Linked DNA regions of Homo sapiens: region 1 is linked to region 2. Evidence: fine-mapped expression QTL. A gene starts in region 2. The other region holds a variant in brackets. All regions are shown on one strand. Distances are from middle to middle. Region 1 overlaps LINC02691 (long intergenic non-protein coding RNA 2691). Region 2 holds the start of LINC02691 (long intergenic non-protein coding RNA 2691).

Region 1 (5,370 bases), 19 kb after region 2:
CTGCTGTTTTGTCTGATGTGCAGCCAACCTTGATAACATTGCATCTTCCTGTATAGGGGTGTGAAATAATCTCAGTGTGTTGAGTTCTTGGTTTCTCTAGCTATAGTCCGTTGGCTTCCATGGCTCCACCATGTTCCATCATGCGAACATACAACAGGCTTCTCATCCATTCTGCTGTTGATGAACACTTGGGTGGTATCTGAATTGGCTGAGTGGCCCATGCTACTGTGAACACTCTCGCCCATGTGCCCACTTGTCCTAGGGTCCCTCCCCAGGAGTGGAATTGCCAGGTCATGAGATGTGCGCCTCTTCAACCCTTTTAGATAATGCCAATCTGTTATTGTTTCTAATTAATAGACTATTTTTTTAGTCTGGACGCGGTGGCTCACGCCTGTAATCTCAGCACTTTGAGACACCAAGCTGGGCAGATCACCTGGGGTCAGGAGTTCAAGACCAGCCTGGCCAACATGGCGAAACCCAATCTCTACTAAAAACAAAACAAAAATTAGCTGGGCATAGTGGCACATGCCTGTAATCCCAGCTACTTGGGAGGCTGAGGCAGGAGAATAGCTTGAACCTGGGAGGTGGAGGTTGCAGTGAGCCAAGATTGCGCCACTGCACTCCAGCCTGGGTGACAGAGTGAGACTCCATCTCAAAAAAAAAAAAAAAAAAAAAAGAAAAGAAAAAAAGACTATTTTTTGAGCAGTTATAGGTTTACAAAAAAAAAAAAAATTCTTCCTTGAGGGTATCCGGGCAGCTCTAGGCTCTTTATGCTACTATTCACATTATACAGTCAGTTTGTTAAGCTTCCCATAGACACAGAACCAAGTGCTGTTGGGGTTTTGGGTGGAATATTATTGAACCAAAGCAATTCAGGAAGAACTGGCATCTTCACAGGTTGTATCTTCCAATACAGGAGCATGTTTTATCTTGTTATTTGGTGTTCCTTATTTCTGTCAATACAATTTTTAGTCTCAGATAAATTTGTTAGATATATTCCTAGATGCCCAATATTCTTTGATGCTTTTAAATTACATTTTTTTACTTGTTTGTTGATGTAGAAATACAATTTGAATTTGTTTTTCCTGTTTTTGTTTGTTTGTTTGGTTGGTTTTGTCTCCTGTTGCATTTTGGACACTGTCTTTAGATTGGTTTTCTAGTTTATTCATCTTTCTTTAGCTGTATAAAATCTGCTGTTAAAACTTATGCATTGGCCGGGCATGGTGGCTCACACCTGTAATCCCAGCACTTTGGGAGGCTGAGGCGGGCGGATCATGAGGTCAGGAGATCAAGACCATCCTGGCCAACACGGTGAAACCCCGTCTCTACTAAAAAAAAAAAAAAAAAAAAAAAAAAAAAAAAATTAGCCGGGCGTGGTGGCGGGTGCCTGTAGTCCCAGCTACTCGGGAGGCTGAGGCAGGAGAATGGCGCGAACCCGGGAGGCGGAGCTTGCAGTGAGCTGAGATCGCGCCACTGCACTCCAGCTTGGGCGACAGAGCCAGACTCTGTCTCAAACAACAACAACAACAAAAAAAAAAACAACTTAGGCATTGAGTTCTAATTTTTGGTTAATTTTCAGTTTTAAATATTTTTATTTGGTTCTTTTCCAAATCTTCTCTGACATGTTTTATAGTTTTCAGTCTCCTGTGATATGTTTGAATTTTTGAATCTTTTAAACTTAGCAAGCATCGTTATTTGATGTGATCTGATCTTCTGCTTATAATTCCAAAACCTGAAGTCTTTGTGCATCTGTTTCTATTGTCTTTTGTTTTTGCTGGCTCTTGATTGTGAATTTAATTTCATTTTGTGTGTGGTTATCTTTGTGTGCTAGAGATTGTATTGAAAAATTGCTTGTAAGAATAATTTGAGCCTTAGGATGATAGTTCCTCTCCTTTCCTCTCCTCTCCTCTCCTCTCCTCTCCTGTCCCCTCCTCTCCTCTCCTCTCCTCTCCTCCCCTCTCCTCTTCTGTCCCCTCCCCTCCTCTCCTCTCCTCTCCCCTCCTCTCCTCTCCCCTCCCCTCCCCTCCCCTCTGCTCCCCTCCCCTCCCCTCCCCTCCCCTCTTCTTTTCTTTTCTTTTCTTGATGAGTTTCACTTTGTTGCCCAGGCTGGAGTGTAGTGGTGTGAGCTCAGCTAACTGTAACCTCCACCTCCCGGGTTCAAGCGATTCTCCTGCCTCAGCCTCCTGAGTAGCTGGGATTACAGGCATGTGCCACCATACCCGGCTAATTTTTGTATTTTTAGTAGAGGCAGAGTTTCACCATGTTGGCCAGGCTGGTCTCCAACTCCTGACCTCAAGTATACCAAAGTCCTGGGATTACAGGCATGAGCCACGGCACCTGGCCAATAGTACCTTTCTTTAAGGATGGTGTTGGTTTGCTTTTTGCAGGTGCCTAGTGGGGCACTACCTGTCTGGAAGTATTTTACACGAAGTTTAAGCCTTGAGATTTCCTGGAGCAGGACCTCTGAAGTCACCATCACAAATGGCAGGCCCACACAAGGACTGATTTACTTCTGACTCACCCATGGCCTTCAGGCTTAGAGTTGGGGCCTTGTCGGATTCCTCTCTCTTACCAACTCTGGGCTTTGACTCTGTTGTCCCTAATGCCATGCTGATAAATAATTAATAACTGGCTCTTCATAAAAAAAAACAGTTTTGATCTGTAGCACCTGCCAATTCCCATGGTGTAAACACTCCTGCCATGGCTGACTTCAAGTTACCAACACAACATCACTGAGTGTGGGATTGGAAAAAGATGCCCATGGCTGGCTCTTAAGAGTCCTCTGAGCCTTGCTGGTTCTCCCTCACCTGCCATTGAGGGGGCTGATGGGTGCAACAGTCATTCCTGAGGCTGCAAAGTTCTTTAAAGCAGAAGCAGCTGACTCTTGCTTATGTTTTGCAGTACTTGCTGGGCTCTCAACTCCTCCAAGGTTTTGGCCTGGTAGTGCATTCTTTGCTACCTGATTTGCTCTTTTCTGCTTTAAAGAAGATTGGAAAAAAATTTTTTTTTTGAGACAGGGTCTCACTCTGTCACCTAGGCTGATCGTGGCTCACT[G/A]CATCCTCCACCTCTCAGGCTCAAGGGATCCTCCTACCTCAGCCCCCCAAGTAGCTAAGACCACAGGTGTGCGCCACCACATTAGGCTAGGTTATTATTATTTTTTTTTTGTATTTTTGGTAGTAGAGACGGGGTTTCTCTATATTGTCCAGGCTGGTCCTGAGCTCCTGGCCACGAGTGAGCCACCCACCTTGACCTCCCAAAGTGCTGGGATTATAGGCATGGGCCACCATGCCTGGCCAATTGAAATATTTTAATCCAGCTTTTCTAGTTGTGTTCAGTGGAAGAGTTGGTCCTAGTCACTAATCTGCTACTTATGGACAGAGACATCTCCTATTTTCTGTTGTAAGGACAGGAAAAAGCAGAAAATATAGAAAAGGAAATAAAGAGCAACCATCTCTCAATAGTACTGCTGCCCAACAAGAACACTGCTGACATTTGGAAACTGTTTTCCAATTTGATTCTTATTGGAAAGCATAACAACCAGCCAGGGCCTGTGCTGCTGGAGCGGGCAGTTATGTGCAGGGAGACAGCTGGTTACGGCTGGCTCCTGGCCTCGACGGAGCTTCTCAGCCTCTTGGAGCCTCTGTCCCCTCAGCTGCTGAAGGAACACATCTCCTGCACTTCTCAAGTTGCTGCCGGTGCGAAGGTGACTCCAGATTCTGCAGTTTGGGCTCCGTAGCTGCTCAGCAAATGTCAGCAGGTCCAGAAGCAAGGCTCCTCAGCTGCAGAGTGAATGCAAATGTCCCCATTGTAAATGGCCGTGGGGCCCAGGGCTCTGCAACCTTGGATGCCCAGGATCAGACCAGCTGTCCGCCGCTTTGGAATCTGGGTTTATGGGGGACCCGGGCCTCATAAATGTCAAAGCGTGCATTCTCGGCAGTCCAGGAGTCGGAAAACGTGTCTCTGAGGGGAGCATTCCTTCCATGCACACAGCTGCCTGGCTCACGTTTTTATCCTCGAGCCATAATTAGTCCTTTCCCCTGACCCTGAATTCCTGCCCCGGCCAGAAGCATGCTGTGGCCCTGGGGCCCGCGGCTCCTGGTGGTCGGTGCCCCTTCTGCTCTCCTGCAGCTGCGGCAGGTGGAAGAGCTGTCGGGGGTGGGAAGGGGGCTTGGAGGGATAAGGATGGGCTGGGGAGGGCTCCCAAGGCAGTGGACACTGTGGGCTCTGGGGACTGCATGGCTGTGGAGGGGGCATGTGCTGTTGGGCTCCCAGCCTCTTGGGGTCCTCTCTGTGCCAAGATAGAGCCTGTTACCCTCCCTGAGCAGGTGTGAGCAGACACCTGTCCCCTGCCCTGCATGGGAAGTGAACGATCCACTAAGTGGGGAGGTCAGGGTCAGATCCCCGGCCTTCCCATGCAGGATGACTGCTCAGGCCCAGGACAGTGGGTGGTCAACAGAAACCCCATCCCTGCCCATAGAGGGTGCTTCCCAGTTCACAGTGACACAGCCTGGCCTGCTCCTCTTCCAGCCACCCAAGGCAAGACACAGAGCAGGAGGCTGAGGCTGGTGTGAGGGAAAGGGGGATGCAGCAAGGGGATACCTCAACCTTGCCCGAGCTACAGACAGGTGAGGACTTCTCCCTCACCTGGTGTTTTCCACTGCATTCTGAAGAGCAGGTGACACCCACCCCAGGGTGGATCCAGGATGGATCTCTGGGTTTCCTGCCATCTACAATGACCCTCCTCATTTCCCCTGGCTAGCTGCCCCCTAGGATGGAGAATGCATCATGGTCACTGACACTTGGCGCCCTTTTCCAGCCTCAATGGCCTGGCAGAGCCAGTGGGGACACAGCAATAATGTGGGTGGCAGTAATAACAGCAGCTGAACCACCTGAGCACCATCCTGACGAGGCATAGCCTGAGCTCTGTGAACAGTGAAGTCCATCTGGTCTCTCAGTGGCCTGAGAGTGACTCTAACTATTATCCTCATTCTCTGAAGGAGGAAAACAAGGCAAGGGGATTTAAATAATTTTTAAAGGTCAGATACCTTCACAAAGGCTGAAGTGGGAGTCAGATGATAGTGTCTGGGTGGAGACCCCATACTCTTACCCTCAACTCTGAGCCATCTGCTATACAACATCTATTTGCTGAGTGGAAGGTGTGTAGCCTGAACCATGCTCACTTCTGGTCCAGAGCTCTTTCCTCAGGGCCCTGGGACATTCACGTTTAGTGTACAGTGGTATATGTATGCTGAATTCCTACATTAGGCCAGCCACATAGTCAGCACTGATTGCTAAAAGAATAACTGAATAAGGATAAATGCTTGAGGGGATGGATACCCCATTCTCCATGATGCGATTATTTCACATTCC
Region 2 (5,370 bases):
ACCCTGCATCCGCACAGGTGCCCTCCCCAGGTCCCCAGAACTCCTGCCTCTCAGGCCGGGCTGCCCCAGGGAAGGGAGCACAGCCAGGAACCCGGTCTGCAAATGAAACGCTGGTCAGAGCCTCCCCACCAGGCCACGTGGTGGGTGGCATGCAGGCTCCCTGGGCTCTTAGGCACCCCCGGTGGCATTGACAGCTGGGGAGAGAGGTGGTCTCAAGGACTATGGAGTCCTTCCTGAAAGTCTCTGCTCCTACGCAGCGGAAACGAGTGAGACTGGGAGTCAGCCCATGGCGAGGAGCTGGGGTGGGGGAACATGGGGACCCGAGACCCAGGCAAAGGCCACCAGTGCTCCCCAGGCGTGTAGCCTGAGCCTTTGGCCCCCAGAAGGGGGTGCGGTGGGGGCACCCCCTGGGCAAACCTGCAGCATAGAACAGCACAGAGGGCCGGGGCCCGGGTAGGTGGATGTGGAGAGGTGTTCCGGAGGGTCTCGGATGCTATGAAGAGATGAGAGGTGTTCAGACGCCATGAAGAGGGGGGATGCCGCCCTGTGGGTGGAGGGTGGTCTGGAAGGCCCCAGGCTGAGGGGCAGCCCTGGTGGGTGTGGGCTGGGGAAGCCTCCGGGCAGTGGCTGGCCTGGTGCCCTTGAGCTGCTCTACCCCTCATGGTACCAGGACCCTTGGCGCCCAGATGTGCTGGGAGCCTGCACCCTGCGGAGGGGGGCCAGGCCCCTCCTCCCCGCTTTGTCCTCTGCAGCCACCTTGGGCCGCCACCCTCTGACCTGCTGGGGGGTTGTCTCTGTGCGTCATCTGGGTGGCCTGAGCCCGGCTCTGATGACTTCACATGGAGCCACCTGCCAACAGAGACGCTGGCAAAGCAGCTGCTCTGGGACCTGACAGAAAAGATAAAAATGATGGAATGTTTGTTCTCTGACATGGAAAACCAGGCTCCCACATTTAGGGCAATTGGAGAAAGATCTTCCTGCTCACCTCGGAGCACAGGTGAAAGACCTGCTCTCTTGCACACCTGCTGCTCCCTGGGCCAGGCACAGCCGCCTCCCGTCTTCTGATGGTGCTGTGGCTGTGGCCTGGCTCTGCCTGCATGGAGCGTTGTGCCAGTTAGGGGGTCTCTATGGTGTCAGGGAGCTTCGGGCTCCCCTGGGCTCTGTGCACAGGCCTCTTGGTGGGGCTGGCAGGACAAAAGGAGAGGAAGAAATCGAAGTTAGTCTCAAACTGCTAGACCACAGATCCCATGGGCGGGTCATTCAATGTGGTGGGGGACAGTAGGTGGTGTGACCAAGGCCATCACACAGGGGCACCTGAGGGTGGGAACATGCGGCCAGCCTGTCCCTCAGGCCTGCCTGGGGTCCTCAACCCAGCATGGGTCAGGGAGTGCTGGCCTGCAGCCCAAGAGACGGGGACTCCACTCCTGGCCTTCTGCGTCTTTGCTTGGAAGGCTCTTATGGCTTTGTGGCCCATCCCCAAGTGCCAGCTCCTTGGGTACAGCCTCCTGTGTCAGGGTCAGTGCGGGGTCATGGCACAGGGCTGCCCTGAAGGGTGCAGAGGAGACCAAAGCCACAAGCTAGGTCTCTTGAGGGCAGCTGCCTCTCGGACCCTTCAAAATGGGTTGGGCCCTGACCCTGGTCTCGGACCAACCCTGCCCCTCCCTGCTGAGGTATAGATGGAGCTGTCAGGGACTTGGAGGCCAGCGTCTTCTCCCCCACTCCCCACTGTTGGAGGCCCCCAGCAGACTCCCTCAGTTTTCTTGCTAAGGCCTCTGCCACGCGGGGTGGTGGCTGTGCACCCTACGGCACGTGCCCTGTACAAGCCCCTCTGGGCCCCTGCTGTGGCCTTCACCGTTGGCCAAGTTCCCGCTCTGGGTCACTCTGCTGATGGCTGAGGGGGCAGGGTGTGAGGGCGTGGTCCACTCCCAGACTCCTACTCTCCCCAAAGCCCCTCCCCGACCCTGCCCTCCCGCCTCTGCAGGCAGCCTGCCGCCCCCGCCCCCACCCCAGCTGCCTCCTCCTTTCTCTGACAACCTCCTGCCTGGGGTGTCCTGGAACTGCGCCAGGGGGACCAGGTGACCTTGGACACGGCGTAGCTGCCTGGGCCACCCCCTTTCCTTGGTAATTTGCGCAGACTCCGGAGGGAGCATGAGCAGCTGAGTGCTGGGGGAGGGGCTTTCCTCTTCCTGTCTGTCATGTCCAGCCTGTGAAGAGCACGCTGGCTGAGCTGGCGAGAGGGGTGGGGGCGTCCTGGGGCTGCTTCTGCTCTGATGAAGGCACCCACTGTCACTGTCCCGGCCCTCGCTGAGTGTTCCCGGACCCGTGGGCCCGCGTCTGTGCCAGGCCTTGGGGAGCTCCAGCCTCGGAGCCTCTTCCCGTTCTCAGACCTCAGTGCGAGGAGGAAATCGGGTGAGTTGAGGTTAATGTTTCCATTAAACCTGGATGGATTTTCCCTGCGTGGAAGGAGCTGTTACGCGCCAGGGCTCTGAGCAGCATGGACGGGGCCCCAGCGCAGCCACGCTCCCGAACGAATGCCCTCCTGGGAGGGCCCGGCTGCCTGCCTGCCCCCTGTGCCTCTGCCGCCAGGCCTCGCCCTCCCTCCTCTCCTCTCTTGTGAATAAAGGGCCTCAACCCCACCTACCCGGTGTGCTGAGGGTCCTGCTATACTTAAACTGTAGTTAAAGCAAAAACAAACAAACAAAAACAAAAAAAACATGCAAAACCCCTGTGGCAACAGCTTGTCCCGTGGATATCATCTCCACTAATCCATGTCTCCTGCTCGGGGTCCTGCGGTTTCCAGGCCTGTATCTGCGGGTACTTATTTTCCATTTCCTCCCGAGAGTTTAGCCTGCTAATGAGATTTTGGTGTCTGGTATCTTGGCACATGTCTCCAAAGAGATTTATGGGGCTTCCCTCTCCTGGCCCCTCACTTGTCCTTGGCAGGAAGCTCAAGGGGTTCGATGTAATCTGCTCCAGGGCCCTGGGGAGGGGGCAGAATGTGCTGGAAGGCAGATCTGGGTGGGGTCTGCGGCCAGAAGCTGGATGTCTGCTCTGGAGGAGCCAGGCTGGTGGCGTGTAGTCTGTGGTGGCCCTGGGATAACCAGAGAGGGGTGTGGGTGGGGGGTCCCCTAGACCACCGGCCACCTCGGAGCCAGTCTACAGACTTGGTGTCTCCGCCAGCGCCAGTGATCTGAGCCGAGCGCCCCCTGCTGGTGTTTGGGCTTCCCAGTCCCACTTCACAGTGGGGGCTCCCGGCTCAGACCCACCCATCCATGCCACAGCACTCAGCCTCTGCTCAGGGGCTGGATCTGGCCGGGACCTTGGGTGCTCGGGGGCCCCATGCTCTCCAGGGACAGGGACCTTCGGCTCCACCTGCTGCCTCAGGTGGTCTCATCCATGTGGCTTCAGCCCATTTTCCAGGCAGGGGACAGAGCAGCAGTGACCACAGGGCTGTACAGACACCTGGGGCAGAAGGAGCTGTGGGCCCCTGCCTGGTCCAGAGGTTTCCAGGCCGCAAGCCTGTCCCTGGCTGCTGAACGCCGGCTGGGCTCGGCCTGGGTGGAGGAGAGGCCACAAGGCTTGGGTCAGGGAGGGCCTGACCTTGCTGTGACCTTGGGCACGTCTCCCTACTCTCAACAGAGTGGGGCTAAGAGCAGTGCTGTCGTTGGTGGGATGGAGGGAAGATGCCTCCCAGGGGGCGTTGCTGACCCATGGTGGGTAGATGCCCACCATCACCCCAGCTGCATTTCCTCCTGGGATCTGGAGACTGCTCAGAGTGAAGGTGGGTGTGACTCCCCGGGGCTGCTCGGAGTGAAGGTGGGTGTGGCTCCCTGGGGCTGCTCTGAGTGAAGGCAGGTGTGGCTCCCTGGGGCTGCTCTGAGTGAAGGCAGGTGTGGCTCCCTGGGGCAGCTCAGAGTGAAGGCGGTTGTGACTCCCCGGGGCTGCTCGGAGTGAAGGCGGTTGTGACTCCCGGGGGCAGCTCAGAGTGAAGGTGGGTGTGGCTCCCTGGGGCTGCTCTGAGTGAAAGCAGGTGTGGCTCCCTGGGGCTGCTCGGAGTGAAGGCAGGTGTGGCTCCCCGGGGCTGCTCTGAGTGAAGGCAGGTGTGACTCCCCGGGGCTGCTCTGAGTGAAGGCAGGTGTGGCTCCCTGGGGCTGCTCTGAGTGAAGGCAGGTGTGGCTCCCTGGGGCAGCTCAGAGTGAAGGCGGTTGTGACTCCCCGGGGCTGCTCGGAGTGAAGGCGGTTGTGACTCCCGGGGGCAGCTCAGAGTGAAGGCGGGTGTGGCTCCCTGGGGCTGCTCTGAGTGAAAGCAGGTGTGGCTCCCTGGGGCTGCTCGGAGTGAAGGCAGGTGTGGCTCCCCGGGGCTGCTCGGAGTGAAGGCAGGTGTGACTCCCCGGGGCAGCTCAGAGTGAAGGCAGGTGTGGCTCCCTGGGGCTGCTCTGAGTGAAGGCAGGTGTGGCTCCCGCGGGCTGCTCAGAGTGAAGGTGGGTGTGGCTCCCAGGGGCAGCTCAGAGTGAAGGCAGGTGTGGCTCCCGAGGGCTGCTCAGAGTGAAGGCGGGTGTGGCTCCCGCGGGCTGCTCAGAGTGAAGGTGGGTGTGGCTCCCAGGGGCAGCTCAGAGTGAAGGCAGGTGTGGCTCCCGCGGGCTGCTTAGAGTGAAGGCAGGTGTGGCTCCCTGGGGCTGCTCTGAGTGAAGGCAGGTGTGGCTCCCGGGGCTGCTCTGAGTGAAGGTGGGTGTGACTTGCTTCAGATCTCATTGACGTGGATCTTGGGCAAGTGGTTTTCACTCTCTGGAGCCAGTTTTCTTACCTGGGAATTGGGTTAAATCCCGGTGGCCTTGGGCTGTGGTGGAAGTTAGACAGGACAGCCACATGCCACACACCTGACAGCCTGACAGATGTGTCACTGATGGTCACTGGTGGGTTATGTGGGGCTACTCCTCTGCCTCTGACTCTAGGATCCCATTAGTTGTTTACCAAAGTAGCATGTCCACCAGGGTCCTTCTGGGTATACGGCTTGCTTCCAACTCTCTCACTGATATTTTAGGTCCGCTAACACTTGGAGAAATCTTTTGGTGTGAATTATTCTCAGCAGCTGCAGGGCACCCTGGTTCACTTTCCCGTTTCTCAAGCTCCAATGGTGCCCGACACTGTTTCCTGGGGAGGAAGCTGATGTGCCTTTAGGTGGACGCCTGTGTGAGGCTAGCCCGGGCCGAGCTGGAGCTACCAGCCTTCTGCGGGCATGCATGCCTGGCCTGCCTCAGCAAACACACGATAAATCCATTTCCCCAGGCCGCCTGCTCCCACTTCCCAGATAGCCGGGCTCATACTCACATTTATGTTTCATTTTGTCTGGCTAATATTGTCTTAGATAAA

Evidence for each region. PIP is the estimated chance that this variant, and not a neighbour inherited with it, causes the effect.
Region 1: its variant is fine-mapped to the expression of LINC02691 in adrenal gland (GTEx, PIP above 0.99).

Annotation. Positions count from the first base shown.
Region 1 is chr14:104,240,710-104,246,079 of GRCh38, forward strand. The region is part of intron 1 of LINC02691 (long intergenic non-protein coding RNA 2691); the gene reads left to right. Among named protein-coding and RNA genes, the nearest start is that of LINC02691, 20 kb to the left of the region's middle. The variant G/A (reference allele first, on the strand shown) is at 3,055.
Region 2 is chr14:104,221,408-104,226,777 of GRCh38, forward strand. It overlaps LINC02691 (long intergenic non-protein coding RNA 2691), which reads left to right and starts at 2,177. Exons shown (of 3, transcript NR_146612.1): 1 at 2,177-2,409. RefSeq lists an enhancer at 1,139-2,031.